4 linked regions of the Homo sapiens genome follow. The protein of the gene in region 1 purifies or fractionates together with the protein of each later gene. This does not show direct contact. Each region holds a gene or a part of one and is shown in the gene's direction. Other genes may lie near its edges.

Region 1 (4,964 bases):
TCATTGTGCACTCTGTAAAGTTTGGGAAACATCTGAGTGCTCAGCAGGATTGGAGCCTGGTCCTTCAGGACGTTGACCTTTGTGGAGAGCCGAGTCTGTCTCACGCCATCTTCCCAAACTGCTTTTCTATCCGCAGAAGTAGATTTGCTGACCAAGGAGCTAGAGGACTTTGAGATGAAGAAAGCTGCTGCTCGAGCTGTCACTGGCGTCCTGGCCTCTCACCCCAACAGTACTGATGTTCACATCATCAACCTCTCACTTACCTTTCATGGTCAAGAGCTGCTCAGTGACACCAAACTGGAATTAAACTCAGGCCGTCGTTATGGCCTCATTGGTTTAAATGGAATTGGTGAGGCCTTGGAAGGGGAGGTGGGAGGTATCTCTCCTTAGCTCATCTGTCACTCACAAGCATTTATTTAGCATCAACTGTGTTCAGAGCAAAGCATTTAGAATAGGGATGGGAGACCAGATTATGTCCAGGGGAAAGGAACTAGCAACGCAGAGCAGTATGTGTTATGTACAGGTTGAGTATCCCTTATCTGAAATGCTTGGAACCAGAAGTGTTTCGGATCTTGGAATATTTGCATTATACTTACCGGCTGAGCATCCCTAATCCAAAAACCTGAAATTCTCCAGTGAGCATTTCCTTTAAGCATCATGTGAGCACTTAAAAGGTTTTGGATTTTGGAGCATTTTGGATTTTCAGATTAGGGTGCGTCCACCCTGTACCACATGATTAGTTACAGCAGGTGCTGGAGAAGTTGGTCAGGGGCGTGTGAAGCTGTGGTAAGTGAAAAAAGCTTCAGATAAGGGGTGGGGCAAGAATTGGAGGAAAGTTAGAAAGGAATCCCAAGAATGGGGGCTGGCAAGATTTGAACGAATGAAGGGAAGAAAGGTCCTCAAAAAAAAAAAAATGGATGAGGTCCCAGTTTGACTGGGGTGGAAGAACTAGTGGTGAAGAGGGATAGGGGAGTTCACTGTACCAAGCGTCTGCTGCTCTCCCCTCTCAGGAAAGTCCATGCTGCTCTCTGCTATTGGGAAGCGTGAAGTGCCCATCCCTGAGCACATCGACATCTACCATCTGACTCGAGAGATGCCCCCTAGTGACAAGACACCCTTGCATTGTGTGATGGAAGTCGACACAGAGCGGGCCATGCTGGAGAAAGAGGCAGAGCGGCTGGCTCATGAGGATGGTAGGGCTCCAGACCTGGGCATAGGGGTGGGCGTCCTCCCAGAAAGGCCCCCAGGAGCCTCATGGCCATACACTGTCCACAGCGGAGTGTGAGAAGCTCATGGAGCTCTACGAGCGCCTGGAGGAGCTGGATGCCGACAAGGCAGAGATGAGGGCCTCGCGGATCTTGCATGGACTGGGTTTCACACCTGCCATGCAGCGCAAGAAGCTAAAAGACTTCAGTGGGGGCTGGAGGATGAGGGTTGCCCTTGCCAGGTGAGTCCCTCCCTCCTTCCCTACCCCCATAACTCCCCCATCTCTCCAGTGTTTAGTGTTCACTCCAGTGGAACTGTTTGGAACAGGAGTCAGTGGTAAGTGTCAAATGAGACATGGACATCTGCAGTGTGGAGGGGGTTGTTGTGTATGGGCTAGAGAGAGAGCTTCCTGGCTGAAGTGGTAGAGTGACTCAGTTTTCTATTGGATTCTTAGCACCCAGCACAGAGTTTAGAGATCCTAGGGGTAGTCCTAGGTAAAACGGTGGAGTAGGTCTGTTTCTGTCCTCCCACCAGGATTCCCTTTCCACCCTTTTTGTACTCTAGTCCTGCTAATTCCAGCTGTAAAGATAAAATGTTAGACGGCTATTATGATAGCTGTCGTTCTTATTCTCTTGTGGCCTGGACTCAAAGTGAGTTTCCATAGACCAGCATTCCCCCAATAATCCCCCCAGAGTCACTAAACAGGTAATTCCTTGCCCCATCATTCTCTGTGAAGGGAATTTATAAGACTTGATATACTTCTCTAGAAAGTTGCCTGCATGTGCCTTAGAGTATAAGCACAGTGGTTCCACATGCTAGCAAGGATTAGCTGCCTCCGGTTCACCCAAGGAGCTTTTAAAAACACAGATTTCTGGTTTGGGAACCAGAGCTTTAGAGTCTATCCCTCGCTAGACTCTGGCCACCCCACAAGATAGGTCTATCTTCAGACCTTCAGATAGGTCTAATTTGTTTTAGCAGTTTATTTCCTCTGTATTTTTTTGTCTTCTCCGTAGTCTCCAACTTCAGTGCACAAGGCTCATAAACTCATAAAGACTTCTACAGCCTTGCCTCGAACTGTCCTTATATGCTTCTGAGCCCCGTATTCTACTCTTCAATCTCTTCTCTTCGACTCTTGTTTCTGTCCTGCTTCTCCTTTTCCCTCTGAGGTATAGAGCCTAAAATTGATTTCAAGACTCAAGCCAGGAGCCTACTCAGAATTGCATGTAGCAGGCAAGTTTGTCCCGTCCTGTGTCACATCCATTATAATTCTGAGGTGCTTCTGTCTCCTTTACCGTCCTTCAGAGCCCTCTTTATTCGGCCCTTCATGCTGCTCCTGGATGAGCCTACCAACCACCTGGACCTAGATGCTTGCGTGTGGTTGGAAGAAGAACTAAAAACGTAAGAGGGTGGAATGGGGGATGTGAGCGGGCAGGTCCCAAAGGGGGAATCTAGAAAATGGATGCCCAGAAACTGCACTGATGTTAGAGCGGTGAGAAAGGAACTGAAGGAAGGACAGAGTTCACTTTCTTGGACAAGCAGTGAGCACCTTTAGGGCTGTTGAAGGCTGGCCTTTTATTTTGATTGTTTTTCTTTAGTTTGAAATTTATGAGCTTTTTTTTTTAAAAAAAATCCTTGTTGGTTTTGTCCATATTTCAAATTCAAGATCTTAATTAAAGATATATTTTTTTTCTTAATTGTATAAAGCTAAAAAGAGGTCTTCCATCTAAGATCATGATGCAGTGACAAAGGAAAATATAGCCAATATGGTCATGGTCCTACAGCTAAAGAACTGAATAAGCTGGAATATTGTACCAATTTTAAAAGAAGGCTTTTAGTGGTACGATGACTTAGTACCTTCTTTCAAAAAGTAAAGCATTTTGTTTTTTATTGTGTCTGTACCAGTTCTTCCCACCCACAGTTTTGGATACATTCGTGGGTGTATTTGTGTACATACACACTTCTGGTTACTATCACTGTTACTACCGTCTCCATCCCATTCTGTTGAAAATTAGAACAGAAGATTGAGGAAACTCAGGCTGTCTCGCCACACTGAAAGGCGTCCAAATACCCTTACAGTTAGATTGTCGAGTCGTGGCTTAGGTGCTTGCTAACAGCCAGGAATTGGACAACACATCTAAAAGGTGCTTAGGGATGAGGATGGGCCTGACTTTCAGTTCACCTGTTGTCAGCTAGCTCCCATGGTTGAGCTCTTCACTAATTGGTTCTTTGGCTTTACAGTTTTAAGCGCATCTTGGTCCTCGTCTCCCATTCCCAGGATTTTCTGAATGGTGTCTGTACCAATATCATTCACATGCACAACAAGAAACTGAAGTATTATACGGTGAGTGGGCCTCGGCTTCTTCTGGTAATCTCTGTGCATACCAATTCTCTGAAATTCTCTTTAAAAAAAAAAAAAAAGGCTGGTGTGGTGGCTCATGCCTGTAATCCCAGCACTTTGGGAGGCCGAGGTGGGTGGGTCACTTGAGGTCAGGAGTTTGAGACCAGCCTGGCCAATATGGTGAAACCCTGTCTCTACTAAAAATACAAAAAAATTAGCCAGGCGTGGTGGCAGGTGCCTGTAGTCCCAGCTACTTGGGAAGCTGAGGCAGGAGAATCACTTGAACCCTGGAGGCGGAGGTTGCAGTGAGCTGAGATCACACCACTGCACTCCAGCCTGGGTGACAGAGCAAGACTCCATCTCAAAAAAAAAAAAAAAGCAGACCTATCTATTAGCTCCTTTCTACCTATTGCTATAAAAAGATATGGACAAGGAGTCCTACCACCTGTTTTATTTTAATCCCAAAGTCATTGCTTTCAGGCCATAGGCCATGGATTGGCAGCCTGTGCACACAAGGTGTATGTTTGCCTTGTGGCAAAGAAGTTGACTTTTCACGGTGACCAGGCAGGCCCTGCTCTCATCTGCCTTGCCTCTTTTTTTCTGGAAACAGAATCTCATTCCGTCACCCAGGCTGGCATGATCTCAGCTCACTGCAACCTCTACTTCCTGAATTCAAGCGATTCTTGTACCTCAGCCTTCTGAGTAGCTGGGACTACAGGCATGCACTGCCATGTCTGGCTAGTTTTTGTATTTTTAGTAGAGACGGGATTTTGCCATGTTGGCCAGGCTGGTCTTGAACTCTTGACTTCAGGTGATCTGCCCTCCTCAGCCTCCCAAAGTGCTGGGATAACAGGCATGAGCCACCACACGAGGCCTCCCTCTGCCTTCTTGAATGCCTTCTTAATTCTGCTTCACTGGAGTCTACACATTTACCCCACCTCCCATGACCACAGGAGAATGGGGGTCAGGATCTCAATAGCCCACTGTTGTGCCTTGCCTTTTCATTTTATATTTCAAAAAGCATGTAAGAAACTAACGATTGATGTCCTCTTCATTCATAGTCATAGGAGTATTAGTTTATAATATAGCCTTCCAGAAACTTCATGTATACTTGCACACATTTGTAGAAAATGTCATGTATACGTAATCTTTTTCTTTTTATACAATTGCAGCTTTTTTTTTTTTTTTTTTTTGAGCTGGAGTCTTGCTCCGTCGCCAGGCTGGAGTGCAGTGGCGCGATCTGGGCTCACTGCAACCTCCACCTCCCAGGTTCAAGGGACTCTCCTGCCTCGGCTTCCTGAGTAGCTGGGACTACAGGCGCATGCCACCACACCCAGCTAATTTTTGTATTTTTAGTAGAGATGGGGTTCACCATATTGGCCAGGATGGTCTCCCTCTCTTGACCTCATGATCCGCCTGC
Region 2 (4,964 bases), on another chromosome or scaffold:
CTTTTTCTTTTTTCTTTATTTATTTTTTTTGAGATGGAGTTTCACTCTTGTTGCCCAGGCTGGAGTGCAATGGCGCAATCTCAGCTCACCACAACCTCTGCCTCCTGGGTTCAAGTGATTCTCCTGCCTCAGCCTCCTGAGTAGCTGGGATTACAGGCATGTGCCACCACGCCTGGCTAATTTTGTATTTTTAGTAGAGACAAGGTTTCTCCATGTTGGTCAGGCCGGTCTTGAACTCCTGACCTCAGGTGATCCACCTGCCTTGGCCTCCCAAAGTACTGGGATTACAGGCATGAGCCACCATGCCCGACCTTTGTCTTTTTTCTTTTGAGACAGGGTCTTGCTCTGTTATTTAGGCTAGAGTGCAGTGGCAGTCCATGAGAGCCCACTGCAGCTTTGAACTCCTGGGCTCGAGTGATCCTCCTGCATCAACCTTCTGAGTAGCTGGGACTACAGGCATGTGCCACCATGCCTGGCTAATTTTTAAGCTTTTTGTAGCGACAGGGGTCTCACTGTGTTGCCCAGGCTGGACTCAAACTCCTGGACTCAAGCGATCCTCCTGGTTCACCTTCCTAAAGTGCTGAGATTACAGGCGTGACCCAACATGCCTGGCCTCTCACCAAGTACTTTCTACCCTAATCTGCCTCGTGGTGGACAGGGATTAGCAGTACAGGCACTCAGATTGACCTCTGGCAGCCAGATCCCATGTGTGTAAAAGTGGTGGCCTCAGAGTGAAGGTGCTCCAGAGGCAGTCGTGGGCAGTAGTCTGCTAATAGCTATGGCAGCTTGTTCTAGATCCCTGCATCAGATTCCTGAGCCCAAGAATGCGCACACACACACACGTGCCTGTTGACAGTGCAGTCTCTTAAATGTGGGGAGAGAGCAGGAGAGAGGCCTAGTACTTTCTCTTTTAATCCTCCCAAAGTAGTGCTCTACATTCTGTAGGAGAAGGAGCAGTGTCTGGACATAACACGCAGGGCCCCAAGCCTGTTTGCCCCTCTGCCTTGCAGGTTGACACTGATTTCCCTATTGGGTAAAATGGCTGGTGAAAGGGAGCTCTTTGGCATGTGTAGAAATGAGCACGGCATGTGAAGGGCTGTCAGAAACAGTGTGTGGCTTACATTTGAGGCCTTAACCCAATATCTTATGAAATAGCTTATGACACTTAAGAATTTAATACAAAGCTCAGGGATATCCTTTTCATTTCTGGGTTTTTTTTTGGTGTGTATTTCATTATTTCATTTCTGATGTCCAAATCCCCTACCCCTAGGTAAATAAAGGTGACATCCTGGTGGTTGCAACTGGTCAGCCTGAAATGGTTAAAGGGGAGTGGATCAAACCTGGGGCAATAGTCATCGACTGTGGAATCAATTATGTCCCAGGTGAGTGTTGTTGGAGGAGTAAGGTGGCTGCTGGTATTGAGGATGGTATCTAGGTCATCAAAAGAAGCCTGAGAGAGAAGCTTGTCTCATTTTATGCTTGTAGTACTAAGGTTTAGGAGACTGACTAGCCCAAGGGTGCACAGAGTTAGTAGATAGAAGAGTTGCCACTTGCAGGCAGGTCTGCCTGGTGCCAGAGCCTTTGATTTTCATCATGTGCTGTACAGCTTCCAAGATGACTTTGTCCAGGGAGAAAGTGAGAGGGAGGGCAGGAGGGATATATCACTTTATCTTCATGTAGAGATCACCCTTTATTTTAGCAAAGTTGATGGATGGATTTAAAATACAGTATAATTATTGCAAAGTGCTATGAGAGTCCAGAAGAGGGACTCATTCTGCCAAGAGGAGGGCTTTACAAAGAAGATATTTGACCTGGGTTTTTTTCTAGGCTGAGAGGATAAATCTAGCCTTTTAATCATGTCCAAAACTGTACTCGGCATCCTCATCCCCAAGTTACCCCTTACTCCCGTCTTTTGGTTAGTATCACCATTCTTCCTTCCCGCAAGTCTGAAGCCTTTTAGTTTCCCTCCCAAGCATTCCCTATATTGGACCAGTCTCTAAATATTAGGAATTGTTTTCTCTCTCCTCTGTTCTGAGTGTCACCACTGAGTGTTACCTTCTCAGCTGATGGGCTGTGATAACTTCCTTGCAGGTGTCCCTCCCTCCAGCTGCTTCCCACTCAGATCTATCCCCGTGCTCTCGCCTTGCCACGTTCACCTTCTGGCATGGAACTCTGAGCCTCTTCCTTCTTACTTGCCAGACTCCTTAGCCTCACACTAATTTCAGTGACCTCTGCAGCCTGTGATCTCACTTGCGCATGGTGAATACCTGTCTTCAACTTGTAAAGTGGACCACTTTCCCTTCCCTGCGCATGCCTCGTTTGCCCTTTGTAGTTCCCTCACCTGCATTCTTAGTGGAGTGGGCTACTCTTTCAAACAGAAAACTTCACAGAACAATAGGGCAAAACTTGCGTACGTCCTCATAGATCCAAGAAAGGAACAATCTTTAACGGAGCAACTACTGTGTATCCAGCACAATGCCAGGCCTTGGGCTACACAACTGAATAAGGTTCAACTTCACCTTCACCTTCAGCTGCTTCCTCCCCATCTCCTCTCTGTCATGTCTGTTATTCCTTCCAAACCTTGTTTGATTTCCCCTTATCAAGGGATGATCTTTCCTTCTCTCCCTCCCTCCTCTCCCATAGAACATGTGTATTGTATCTTTTGTTGCATGTGTCTCATGTACGGCGTCCTGTGCTCTCCTGCCTAGATAGCTCCTCAAGGGCAGTGGTCACTGTGGCGCCACATCCAGCTTCCTGCCATCTGACCACTGGCACTCATATCTATTGAATTGTCGAAGGGAGTTATAGCTGGAAGTCTTTTTTCTCCCTTCCCATCTCAAGTTTCAGATGTAGACGCTGAGCTGCCAGGAACATTAGTCACTGTCAAGCCTTCACCGTTTTTAACCTCCCTCCCACTCTCCCTACCGTGCTTTTAAGACAGTAGCTCATAATTGATCACTCATTTTCTTGTAGTGTAATTATCTAACAGGCGATAAAGAAATTGCTCTCCTACAACTCCTCACTTTGAATACTTGCGATATGACATTCAAGCTCAGTCTTTTTATTTATTTATTTTTTTAATTTTTTTTTTTTTTCTTGAGACGGAGTCTCGCTCTGTTGCCCAGGCTGGAGTGCTGTGGCGCGATCTCGGCTCACTGCAAGCTCCGCCTTGCGGGTTCATGCCATTCTCCCGCCTCCGCCTCCCGAGTAGCTGGGACTACAGGCGCCCGCCACCACGCCCGGCTAATTTTTTTTGTATTTTTAGTAGAGACGGGGTTTCACCATGTTAGCCAGGATGGTCTCGATCTCCTGACCTCGTGATCCGCCCACCTTTGCCTCCCAAAGTGCTGGGATTACAGGCGTGAGCCACCGCACCCAGCAAGCTCAGTCTTTTTAAAACCTCGCATCTTCTGTATCATATTTCTGCTTTTGGCATTTTTTTTTTGGATTACATGTGAGAAATGGAGAAGAAAAACCTGAGTGGGGATCTTGAGTGTTGCAGATAGGTAGGAAATGTTGACTTAAACATGAAACTTGCCATCCTTTTCACATTGATTCCTTATGTAGACAATAAAATATGAATAAAATCAAAGCAGTATCTTCCCTTCTGGTCAACAGTGTTTTTACTGATCTTGGGCATATAGGCAAATTAATGCTGATACAGCTGGATGTTATTGTGTTCCCCAAAGGATGGCAGAATCACTCAGTTACAGACCAGCAAATGGGCTGCAGGACCTAAAGACTGATATTTGCAAATGTTCACTTTAGAAGCAAACTTTTCTACCACCGAGCTACTTCTTGGTTCATATTTTGATTATTTAAATAGTTTGCATGGTCCACTCAGGGATAACATTGTAAGTCACTTGCCAAATTAAGAATGAATCAAGGTGTGTATACCTTTTACAAAGAAGTAATATTTTTAAAGATTCAAGTGCAGGGCAGAAAGTATTGGCCAGAGAAACACATAAAAGTGCTCTTCCTGCTTGGCTTACTAAAGATAAATTGAGAAGGGCCAGATCAATAGTGTTTTATTTGGAAGGGTTAAAAAGTGGGAACAGATTCCCCACCCTAATGCAATCCAGTCTCAACCTATCCAGTGTAGCTGCTTCTGGACTGGCCTCTATTATTAGGGTCCCCAAATTAAATGTAGAAGAGTCAGGGCTCAGCTGGATCTTTAGTTGATTTTTGTACATGTGATTTCCCAAAGAAAGAGAAATTCTAGGGCTGGGGGTAGATAACCAAAAGGTTTGCTCATTACTGAGGTCATATGCTTAGGCTGAGTAGTGGTCACTTTTTCCACTGACCACATCATCCTATCCACGAAGCACTGCATGTTTAGCAGTGTCTCGTCAACCCTGACAGTATTTGGTTTAGGAGCAAAACTGAACTCACCAGTGCTGCGTTTAGTCATGTAGTCAAAGATATGTGTCTCTTACCTGTGGGAAAACGAAAATGACTAACATTAACACGTAGAAATAGATGCAGCGGGTATTTCAAGCTAACTACAGTGTGAAGACGATTGAAACTTGTACAGAGGGCAAACCTCTATCTATATTTCCTTGGCATTTTGAAATGACTCTAGGGGCTGTAAGAGGAAATGTTCTGCCAGTTTGCTGCTTTATAATCTTCTAGAAACTTGAAACCATCCCAATGAGTTGTGTTGACCAGCTCCTTTTACTCCATATAAAAAATATCTTACGTATCTGTGGTGGAAAGAGAAACTCTTGCGTTTGGAGGCTGCTTTTTCAATTTCAGTAATGTACACATTTTCTCATTTTGCCCTCAGCAAATTTGTGATAGGTAGTGTTAAGCCTTCTTTGCATTTTGGACTTCAGATTAATATGGAGCCCACAGGAGCTGCAGAACTAACTTTTTTTTTTGAGACGGAGTTTCGCTCTTGTTGCCCAGGCTGGAGTGGAATGCTCACTGCAGCCTCCGCCTCCCGGGTTCAAGTGAGTCTCCTG
Region 3 (4,964 bases), on another chromosome or scaffold:
TGTGGATTTTCTCCTTCATTCTGTTAACAACATAATTACTGTTGAATTTTTAGAATGTTAAACCAACTTTACATTATTAAAATAAACCCTAGTTGGTTGTCATTTGTTATCCTTTTGATATATTGCTAGATTTGATTTGTAATGTTTCATTGTTGTTTTGTGTCTATGTTCATGAGTGATATGAGTATGTAGTTTTCTTGTAATGTCTTTTATCTGGTTTTCATATCAGAGTAATGTTGGCCTCCTAAGACGAGTTGAGAAGTGTTTCCTCCTCTGTTTTCTGAAAGAATGTGCAGGAATTGGATTATTTCAAAGAATTAGCTTTTGGTTTTATTGATATTCTTTTCTAATATAAGCATTTAAAAGTGTTAATTTCTAATTACTAGTTAGACATGTTTTTATTATTTAGCTTTACAAGCTTCAGGCTTTTCCTTTAAAGGTGTTGAGCATGTTTATAAATATTCTAAGGACCTCATATGCTAATTTTAACATCTTCGTCATTTCCTACTGATTTGTCTCCTTAGTAGCATTCAGATTCGTCTGATTCTTTATTTTGTCACCCTAGACTCTGTCCCCAGACAGATTATGCTTTTGATTGTTTGTTTGGCTAGCAAGTATTTTTCATTTCTTCTATGCTCATTTATCTCTCATGTTGAAAAGTGAGGGAAAATAGATTCTGTCATTAACAAAACAGATTTAATCCTAATTTGAGCAATAAAATAATTAAAATAGGCTGTTCCCTTAGAAAATATATATTTTTTAATTTTTTGGTATATAATTTTATAGTGATGGTACTTGCTGGGATTGATTGATTTGTTACAAAAACTGTTTCGGAATTCCAACAATATACATTAATAGTCTTAGGATAATTCTAGGATGTTATCTTTTGCAAACAAATGGCAGCCACTTAGGAACTCATGGAGGCTGACAGGGGCAGCATGGCACCACAGCAGTTTCTAATTTAAGAGCAGGTGCCGATAAGCAGTCTGAAAGGAGCTTTTGGTACAATAAAGTGTATGAGTAAGTCACACTGTTCTGTATATATGAGACACACATGAGGAATTTTCTGGAGCTATTAATACAGTTCTTGAATGTTCTGAATTTTTTAGAGATCTTTCTCATGAAAAAACTTTTTCAGATTGATAGGTTATATGATTGGAAAAAGAGTCCTGACTCTGATGTGGCTGCTACTTTAAAGAAGCAGAAAAAGAATACAAAAGATGAATTTGAGGAGCGAGCAAAGGCTATTATTGTAGAATTTGCACAGCAGGTAAGAAGGCCTTCCTTCTTTCTGAAGAGCCTATCTCAGAATATGTATTATATTATCTTTATAATGAAGTCAGCATTTTCATTAATACTGGTTCTTTTCCTCTGTTGACAGCAATTACTTTTTTTAAATTCTTCTTCCCTTTTCTCCTTTTTCTTTGCAGTCTGAATACTTTAATTTAGAAAACTGAGTTGACTTAGAACTACTTTGCTATAATACAGTTAATGCTTATAGGATATACATGATCATTTTTAGTGTTTATGAGGAGTTTCAAAATGATGAGCCATTTGCTCATCCGGCTTCTAGTGAGGCACACCTATTCCAGATACGTTTTCTTTACAGCCTGGCATTTTGGATGATTTTTGCTCCTAGGGTTTGAATGCTGCTTTGTTTTATGAGAATAAAGATCCCCGCACTTTTGTGTCTTTGGTACCTACCTCTGCACATACTGGTGATGGCATGGGAAGTCTGATCTACCTTCTTGTAGAGTTAACTCAGACCATGTTGAGCAAGAGACTTGCACACTGTGAAGAGCTGAGAGCACAGGTGATGGAGGTAATGATCAACTTTTCAGTTTATTGTTTTTTTTTTTTTTAAAAATAGCAAGTTCCTTGAGTGGAGGATATTTACTACTTTTAGATTTAATGAACATGGTGCATTGTATGTATGTCTTTCTCTTTGCATTAATGCCTTTTAGGTTAAAGCTCTCCCGGGGATGGGCACCACTATAGATGTCATCTTGATCAATGGGCGTTTGAAGGAAGGAGATACAATCATTGTTCCTGGAGTAGAAGGGCCCATTGTAACTCAGATTCGAGGCCTCCTGTTACCTCCTCCTATGAAGGAATTACGAGTGAAGGTATGCTGAGGTGGGAAGCATTGACACGTGGGGACTTGTACAGTGTTTAGAAGTTCTGCTGAGATGGTTTCCTCACTTTGAAAGCTGTTTGACTTAATACAGAACACATACATCCCTCGCTCTCCCTTTTATTTTAGTTGTCATCATACAGGAAGGCCTGTCTGTCAGAGTAGAGATGTGTGAAAGTACCTGCTTACCAGACTGGGCCTTTGCCAGATTCTAAACTACACTGTTATGGTTCTACACTGCTAAATACGGTTGACTCTTGAACAACATGAGGGCTAGGGGCACTGACTCCCTGGCCAGTTGAAAATCCACATATATTTTTTGACTCCCCAAAAACTTAACTCCTAATAGCCTACCATTGACCAGAAGCCTTACCAATCACATACACAGTCGACTAACATGTTTTGTATGTTTTATATATTACATACTGCATTCTTACAGTAAAACAAGCTAGAGAAAAGAAAACGTGATTAAGAAAATCATAAGGAAAATAGATTTACTATTTGTTAAGTGGAAGTGGATCATCATAATGGTCCTCATTCTCATCTTCATGTTGAGTAAGCTGAGAGGGAAGAAGGAGAGGGGTAGGCCTTGCTGTGTTTGGTGGCAGAGGCAGAAGAAAATCTGAGTATAAGTGGACATATGCAGTTCAAGCCCATTTTGTTCAAGGGTCAGCTGTAGTTTTTTAACATTTTTAATTGTGAAATAAAACATTGCTCCTGAAAAGTACACACAACATAGAAGAAAAGTTTAACACATTTTTGGGAAGCAACCAGATGGAGAATCAGAACGCTGCTGGCACCCAGAAGCTTCCTGTGTGCTTCTTCCTGATCAACTCCCCTGCCTTCCCCTCCTACCCCCTGACCTTTCATAGAGTTAACCATGGTTGCATTTTATGACAGTAACAAATATCCTTGCTTTGCTTTGTTTTTGTGTCTAAGAGTACTTCCCTTAGAAGTGTCTGTAGACTTTATGTAGAAATGGAGTTATTCTCAGTGTGTACTTTTATAGCTGGCTCTTTTTTTTTTTTTTTTTTTGGTGATAGGCTCTCACTGTCACCCAGGCTGGAGTGCAGTGGTGCAGTCACAGTTCACTGCAGCCTCAACCTCCCCGGGGTTCAGGTGATCCTCCCACCTCAGCCTCCTGAATAGTTGGGACTATAGGTACGCACCACCACACCTGGCTAATTTGTTTACAGATGGGACTTTGTCATGTTGCCCAGGCTGGTCTTGACCTCCTGGGCTCAAGCAATCCACCCACCTTGATCTCCCCAAAGTGCTGGGATTATAGGCATGAGCCACCATGCCTGGCCTATATCTGGCTTCCTTTAGTGAAAAAAAAAAAGTATATAATTTTAAGATTTCTATTCCATTGTGTGACTATATCACAACATATCTATCTGTTCTGTTGATGGGAAATGTAGGTGATCTCCAGTTTTTTATGTTTATTTTATTTTATTTTATTTTGAGATGGAGTCTCAGTCTGTCATCCAGGCTGGGATTACAGGTGCACGCCACCACACCCGGCTAATTTTTGTATTTTTAGTAGAGGTGGGGTTTTGCCGTGTTGGCCAGGCTAGTCTCGAACTCCTGACCTCAGCCTCCCTAAGTGAGCCACCGCACCCGGCCCAGTTTTTGATTTTTGTTGTTACTAATAATGCTGCTGCTGTGAACATCTCTTGATGTGTTTGTGCCAGTTTCCCAGGGTATGTATACCTAGGAGTGAAGGCCACACTTGTCTACAGTGGGTGTAACAAATTATATTCTCAACTGCAGTATTTTAGTTTCATTGTTTTACAGCTTCATCAGTTCTTGGATGTTAGGTTTTAAATTTTTTTTGCCATTCTGCTAAGTGTGTAGCTCATTGCCGTTTCAGTGTGCATTTGCCTAATTGTTAACCTGGTTGGTCATTTAAAAATGTTTATTGGCCATTTATTTCCTCCTTCGTGAGATGTACATTTTTCTTCTGCATTATCTTTCTTACAGATTTATATGCGCTTATATATTCAGGATACCGGTTTGTTAGTTGGTGTGTTTTGCAATATCTTCTACTCTTGTGACTTTTTTTTTCCTGTGGTATTTTGAGAAATGGAAATATTTAATTTTAATGTTAAATTTATCAGTCTTGTGATTATTGCTTTTTGTGCCTCGTTTAAGAAACCTCTCTCTAATATCATGATGAGATTCTCTTATATCATCTTCTACTGCTAACCACTTTTAAAGTACATTTGGTAACAAATGTTTTTATCTCTGTAGAACCAGTATGAAAAGCATAAAGAAGTAGAAGCAGCTCAGGGGGTAAAGATTCTTGGAAAAGACCTGGAGAAAACATTGGCTGGTTTACCCCTCCTTGTGGCTTATAAAGAAGATGAAATCCCTGTTCTTAAAGTAAGTTCATTTAAAAATTTTTTTCCTTAAAAGCTATTTGAGTTCTGGCATGTGTCAGCATTGCACATGCTAGGGATGGTGACCAAAACTGGCTTTGTCTTTGTGAAGCCTGCCATTTCTTGGCCTCTTAGCAAACTTGATGCTTTTGAATTACTTCAGTTTGTACAATCATAGAAATTGGTATAATTTTTATATGTACTAGAATTATAAAAATAATGCATTTTATTCAAATAAAAAAATGAGTCAAAAGCTAGAAGTCGGCTGGGCATGGTGAATGCACACCTGTAGTCCCAGCTACTTGGGAGGCTGAGGCAGGAGAATCACTTGAACCTGGGAGGCAGAGGCTGCAGTGAGCCAAGATCGTGCCACTGCACTCCAACCTGGGTGACAGCAGGACCCTGTCTAAAAAAAAAAAAGCTAGAAATTGTATATTCTTTTTGGCCCA
Region 4 (4,964 bases), on another chromosome or scaffold:
AACATATAACAAACATCTGTGTTCCTACCACCAAAAATTAAGTTATTTATATATATAATATATGTAATATATTATATAAATATATATTTATATATAAATAATATATAATTTATATATATAGATATAAATTATATATATATAATATATATATATAGCAGTGAAACAGAACAAATGTGGTATCAGAGCCACAATCTCAGAAGCATTAAGGACTAGCCTTATACAGTGAATTAGAATTCAAAACCCCGAATGGACAGGCTGAGGATCAAACAGTAGTCCTAAGTATCAGTAGTAAAGGAAGTGGGAAAGCTAGTTTGGGGCAGTGTCCCTTAAAGCATATAATAGGGAAGATATTAAAATTCAGGCAACTGAGACCACAGCTAAATTCTGTAGCATATAACTCCATGTTGGTATATATGCTATATATATATAGCAGTGAAACAGAACAAATATATATATATATATATAAAAATATATATATATATATTTATATATATATATATATATATAAATATATATATATATATATATTTCTCCCTGTACCCAGGTAAATGCCTGCCATGTAACAGTGCCAAATATTTTGTTTTCTGATTAGCTAGATAAATTGCTGATTTAATTTCAGTTTACTGGGTTTTGTTCAAAATGCTCATAAATTTGCTTTATTTCTTGTGGATTATTGCACCTTTATTTGCTCCTCCATCTAAATATTCAGTGCTTTTTTCCCCTTATTTTTGGGGCTGCCAATTCCCATAGCCTACTAGGATCCTGGAGATGGAAAATACCTTGAGTATTTGTGGTAGAGCTTTAGATCACCTTTATTTGACCTGCTTATTTCACTAGAGCTGAATAGCATTTTTAACTATACCCTCCCCCAACCCCGAAAAGGCAGCCTTAGCTCAGCCTATGAAAACCGTGTGTGTAATCACATTTCTAACATTTGACTTACACCTCAGTTCTGATTCTTCTCCATCTCCTTTGCTGGCACTAGTCTTCTAAATATTGGCATTGCCTAGGTCCCAGTCTTGATCATGCTTTTCCTTTTCCCCTATTTTATCTTCCTAAGTGATCTCACCCATTCCTGTGGCTTTAAATACCAAATGTGTGCTGCTGGCTTCCAAATACATATGTCCAGGCTTGACCTATCTTTAAGCTCCAAATCTGTATACCCAATCCCCTACTTAACATTTTTACCTGAATGTCTTACAGATAAAATAAATAAACCATTTTACTAAGTCCAAAATGAAACTTTTGATTTTTGCCCCTCCTCTTATCACCACTCACAACCAGTTCTATTCCTAATCTTCCCTATGTTGGTATGTTGCGCTACACAGTATATAGTACAATGCCCTCTACATCTCTCAATGGGTGTTGGCCCCATATAGTACTGTATTGAGTATATCAAATATTGTAAAATCACCCACCCACCTGCTCAAGCCACAGAGCCATCCTGGGTTCTGACCCATTTTTTATCCCCCATCTCCAATTCTTGAACAAGTGTAATGTTTTTTTTGTTTGTTGTTTGTTTTTTGTTTTTTGTTTTTTTGTGAGATGGAGTCTTGCTCTGTTGCCCGGGGTGGAGTGCAGTGGCATGATCTCAGCTCACTGCAACCTCTGCCTCCTGGGTTCAAGTGATTCTCCTGCCTCAGCCTCCTGAGTAGCTGGGACTACAAGGCATGAACCATCATGCCCAGCTATTTTTGTACTTTTAATAGTGATGGGGTTTTGCCATGTTGGCCAGGCTGGTCTTGAACACCTGACCTCAGGAGATCCACCCACCTCAGCCTCCCAAAGTGCTGGGATTACAGGCGTGAGCCACCACATCCAGCCCTGAACAAGTGTAGTGGTTTTTAGCTCCAAAATAAGTCTTGAATCTGCCTACTTATCTCCAGTTCCACTCTTAACACCCAAGTCTAAGCTACCATTATCTCTTGTCCAAACCAAGGCAACAAACTCCTCCCTGCTACCAGTCTTGCCAGTCTTGCATTTTGAAGAACTAATCTCTACATAGCAGTGAAGGTGGACTTTATAAATAAGAAACCTATAGCGTCAATGCCCTCTACACCTCTCAGTGGGTGTTGGCTCCATTATACTTGGAACACAATGAAAAGTCATCACTGTGACCGACAAGGCCCTACTTGAAGTGCCCCCTCTGTACTTATCCAAATTCATTTTAAGCCCTTTCCGTCCTACCGCTCCAGGCTCACAATGTGCCCCACATGTTATATGTTGGCCATCTGACAGTTCCTAAAACATAATGAGAACTTTCCTGTCCTAAGGCCTTGGAAATTACTTTCTCCTGGGCCTGAAATACTCTTCCCTCTGTTGCTTTTTTGTTTTGTTTTATTTCTATTTTGACAAGTTGCAAACATATAACAAACATCTGTGTTCCTACCACCAAAAATTAATAGTTACTAACTTTTTGACATTTTTCCTTGGATTTGAACATTAACGAAAGAACAATATAAAGGTAAATTCTCCTTGTTCTGCCTGTGTTCCATCCCCCTTTCTCCTTACTCAGAATGAGTAAGGGATATTGCTGGTTCCTTACACTACATACATTTCTTCCTTCCTTCTGTTTAGCAAAACCTTGACTTTGTTAAGGCATTCACACACTGCCCACTCCCACCTCCACCCTCTGCCCCAACACCCTCATGTGTTCAGCAGAGGCCATTTGCAGCACGACTGTGGCCCAGGAGATAAGAGGGCAAGTTTCCTGGAGGCTGTGTTTCATTTTGACCCAGGCTATCCAGCAAGGAGGCTGTAGCACTTCTAGAGGCTCCTATCCTCTCTCTCCTGCCCTCAAAGATTTGCCTTTAGAGAACTGGAATGGGACCAAAGAGTCAGGCTCTTTGAATTTCTGATCCACTGCCAAGTCATGAACCAAATGATGTTCTTGTTTGTTCAGTCTTCATCATGTGTCATCTGCTTATCTCAACATCACTGTCTGATCTAAACCAAAAACATCAACATCATAAATAGAAGGAAACTGGACTTCCTACATGTCTCCATGCCTATCCTCCCAAAAAAGAAAGAAAAATGATTTCTCCTTCTATATCAAATCATTTTTTGGTTAGTGTATTATTTTATCATAATTGTGTGTTCGTTTAAACCCAGTGCTATGAAAGACTTCTACAAGGTTAAATCTCCGCTCAAATACAAAATGTTTAAAATCTCAACTGAGAACTGACCTCCCTGTCTCTTCTCTCTGCTTGCAGGCTGCGGCATGTTTACCTTCCTGTCATCTGTCACTGCTGCTGTCAGTGGCCTCCTGGTGGGTTATGAACTTGGGATCATCTCTGGGGCTCTTCTTCAGATCAAAACCTTATTAGCCCTGAGCTGCCATGAGCAGGAAATGGTTGTGAGCTCCCTCGTCATTGGAGCCCTCCTTGCCTCACTCACCGGAGGGGTCCTGATAGACAGATATGGAAGAAGGACAGCAATCATCTTGTCATCCTGCCTGCTTGGACTCGGAAGCTTAGTCTTGATCCTCAGTTTATCCTACACGGTTCTTATAGTGGGACGCATTGCCATAGGGGTCTCCATCTCCCTCTCTTCCATTGCCACTTGTGTTTACATCGCAGAGATTGCTCCTCAACACAGAAGAGGCCTTCTTGTGTCACTGAATGAGCTGATGATTGTCATCGGCATTCTTTCTGCCTATATTTCAAATTACGCATTTGCCAATGTTTTCCATGGCTGGAAGTACATGTTTGGTCTTGTGATTCCCTTGGGAGTTTTGCAAGCAATTGCAATGTATTTTCTTCCTCCAAGCCCTCGGTTTCTGGTGATGAAAGGACAAGAGGGAGCTGCTAGCAAGGTTCTTGGAAGGTTAAGAGCACTCTCAGATACAACTGAGGAACTCACTGTGATCAAATCCTCCCTGAAAGATGAATATCAGTACAGTTTTTGGGATCTGTTTCGTTCAAAAGACAACATGCGGACCCGAATAATGATAGGACTAACACTAGTATTTTTTGTACAAATCACTGGCCAACCAAACATATTGTTCTATGCATCAACTGTTTTGAAGTCAGTTGGATTTCAAAGCAATGAGGCAGCTAGCCTCGCCTCCACTGGGGTTGGAGTCGTCAAGGTCATTAGCACCATCCCTGCCACTCTTCTTGTAGACCATGTCGGCAGCAAAACATTCCTCTGCATTGGCTCCTCTGTGATGGCAGCTTCGTTGGTGACCATGGGCATCGTAAATCTCAACATCCACATGAACTTCACCCATATCTGCAGAAGCCACAATTCTATCAACCAGTCCTTGGATGAGTCTGTGATTTATGGACCAGGAAACCTGTCAACCAACAACAATACTCTCAGAGACCACTTCAAAGGGATTTCTTCCCATAGCAGAAGCTCACTCATGCCCCTGAGAAATGATGTGGATAAGAGAGGGGAGACGACCTCAGCATCCTTGCTAAATGCTGGATTAAGCCACACTGAATACCAGATAGTCACAGACCCTGGGGACGTCCCAGCTTTTTTGAAATGGCTGTCCTTAGCCAGCTTGCTTGTTTATGTTGCTGCTTTTTCAATTGGTCTAGGACCAAGTAAGTACTTTATTCTTTAATGTATTGCTTTTGACCAGTCAGAGCATCCTACTGCTATAGTACCTCATGAACATAAGTGCTAGAAGGAAGACAAGGATAACATTGGTCATCTGATGTTCCTTCTAATGCAGAAAGTATGCTTGGCTTATATCTGCTTCTGAAAAGTACAGGGCTAGTATTCAACTGAAAGATAAGTTTCCCATTATCTGTCACATGAGGATACTTTAATTCCCATTAATTGAGGATGAACCAGACCTGGAAAGATATTTATTGCCCAAGGGAATTACATTGCTTTATGAAAGCAAAATTTGCTTTCATAAAATGGGTAACATTTTCCTCTATATCATCTCTGAGTTTCTTCCTATGTAGAAGGAAAAAAATCAAGGGTTTAGATTTTCTTAAAGACACAAT

Evidence for each region. Proteins that work in one complex are often made in the same cells at the same time.
Region 2: the proteins of ABCF2 (region 1) and MTHFD1 fractionate together in Homo sapiens (co-fractionation; one large-scale study listed by BioGRID). This does not show direct contact.
Region 3: the proteins of ABCF2 (region 1) and EIF5B fractionate together in Homo sapiens (co-fractionation; one large-scale study listed by BioGRID). This does not show direct contact.
Region 4: the proteins of ABCF2 (region 1) and SLC2A12 purify together in Homo sapiens (affinity purification with mass spectrometry, with the first as the bait; one large-scale study listed by BioGRID). This does not show direct contact.

The regions. Positions count from the first base shown.
Region 1 is NC_000007.14:151,220,161-151,225,124, reverse strand, and holds part of ABCF2 (ATP-binding cassette sub-family F member 2), read left to right. Parts: intron 1-136; coding exon 137-349; intron 350-1,010; coding exon 1,011-1,193; intron 1,194-1,275; coding exon 1,276-1,447; intron 1,448-2,508; coding exon 2,509-2,604; intron 2,605-3,444; coding exon 3,445-3,547; intron 3,548-4,964. Other genes in the region: ABCF2-H2BK1 (ABCF2-H2B protein), read left to right, coding at 137-349, 1,011-1,193, 1,276-1,447, 2,509-2,604, 3,445-3,547.
Region 2 is NC_000014.9:64,418,544-64,423,507, forward strand, and holds part of MTHFD1 (C-1-tetrahydrofolate synthase, cytoplasmic), read left to right. Parts: intron 1-1,270; coding exon 1,271-1,382; intron 1,383-4,964. UniProt on the Homo sapiens protein: Trifunctional enzyme that catalyzes the interconversion of three forms of one-carbon-substituted tetrahydrofolate: (6R)-5,10-methylene-5,6,7,8-tetrahydrofolate, 5,10-methenyltetrahydrofolate and (6S)-10-formyltetrahydrofolate.
Region 3 is NC_000002.12:99,388,580-99,393,543, forward strand, and holds part of EIF5B (eukaryotic translation initiation factor 5B), read left to right. Parts: intron 1-1,138; coding exon 1,139-1,270; intron 1,271-1,639; coding exon 1,640-1,822; intron 1,823-1,964; coding exon 1,965-2,126; intron 2,127-4,387; coding exon 4,388-4,519; intron 4,520-4,964. UniProt on the Homo sapiens protein: Plays a role in translation initiation.
Region 4 is NC_000006.12:134,027,970-134,032,933, reverse strand, and holds part of SLC2A12 (solute carrier family 2, facilitated glucose transporter member 12), read left to right. Parts: intron 1-3,212; coding exon 3,213-4,553; intron 4,554-4,964. UniProt on the Homo sapiens protein: Insulin-independent facilitative glucose transporter.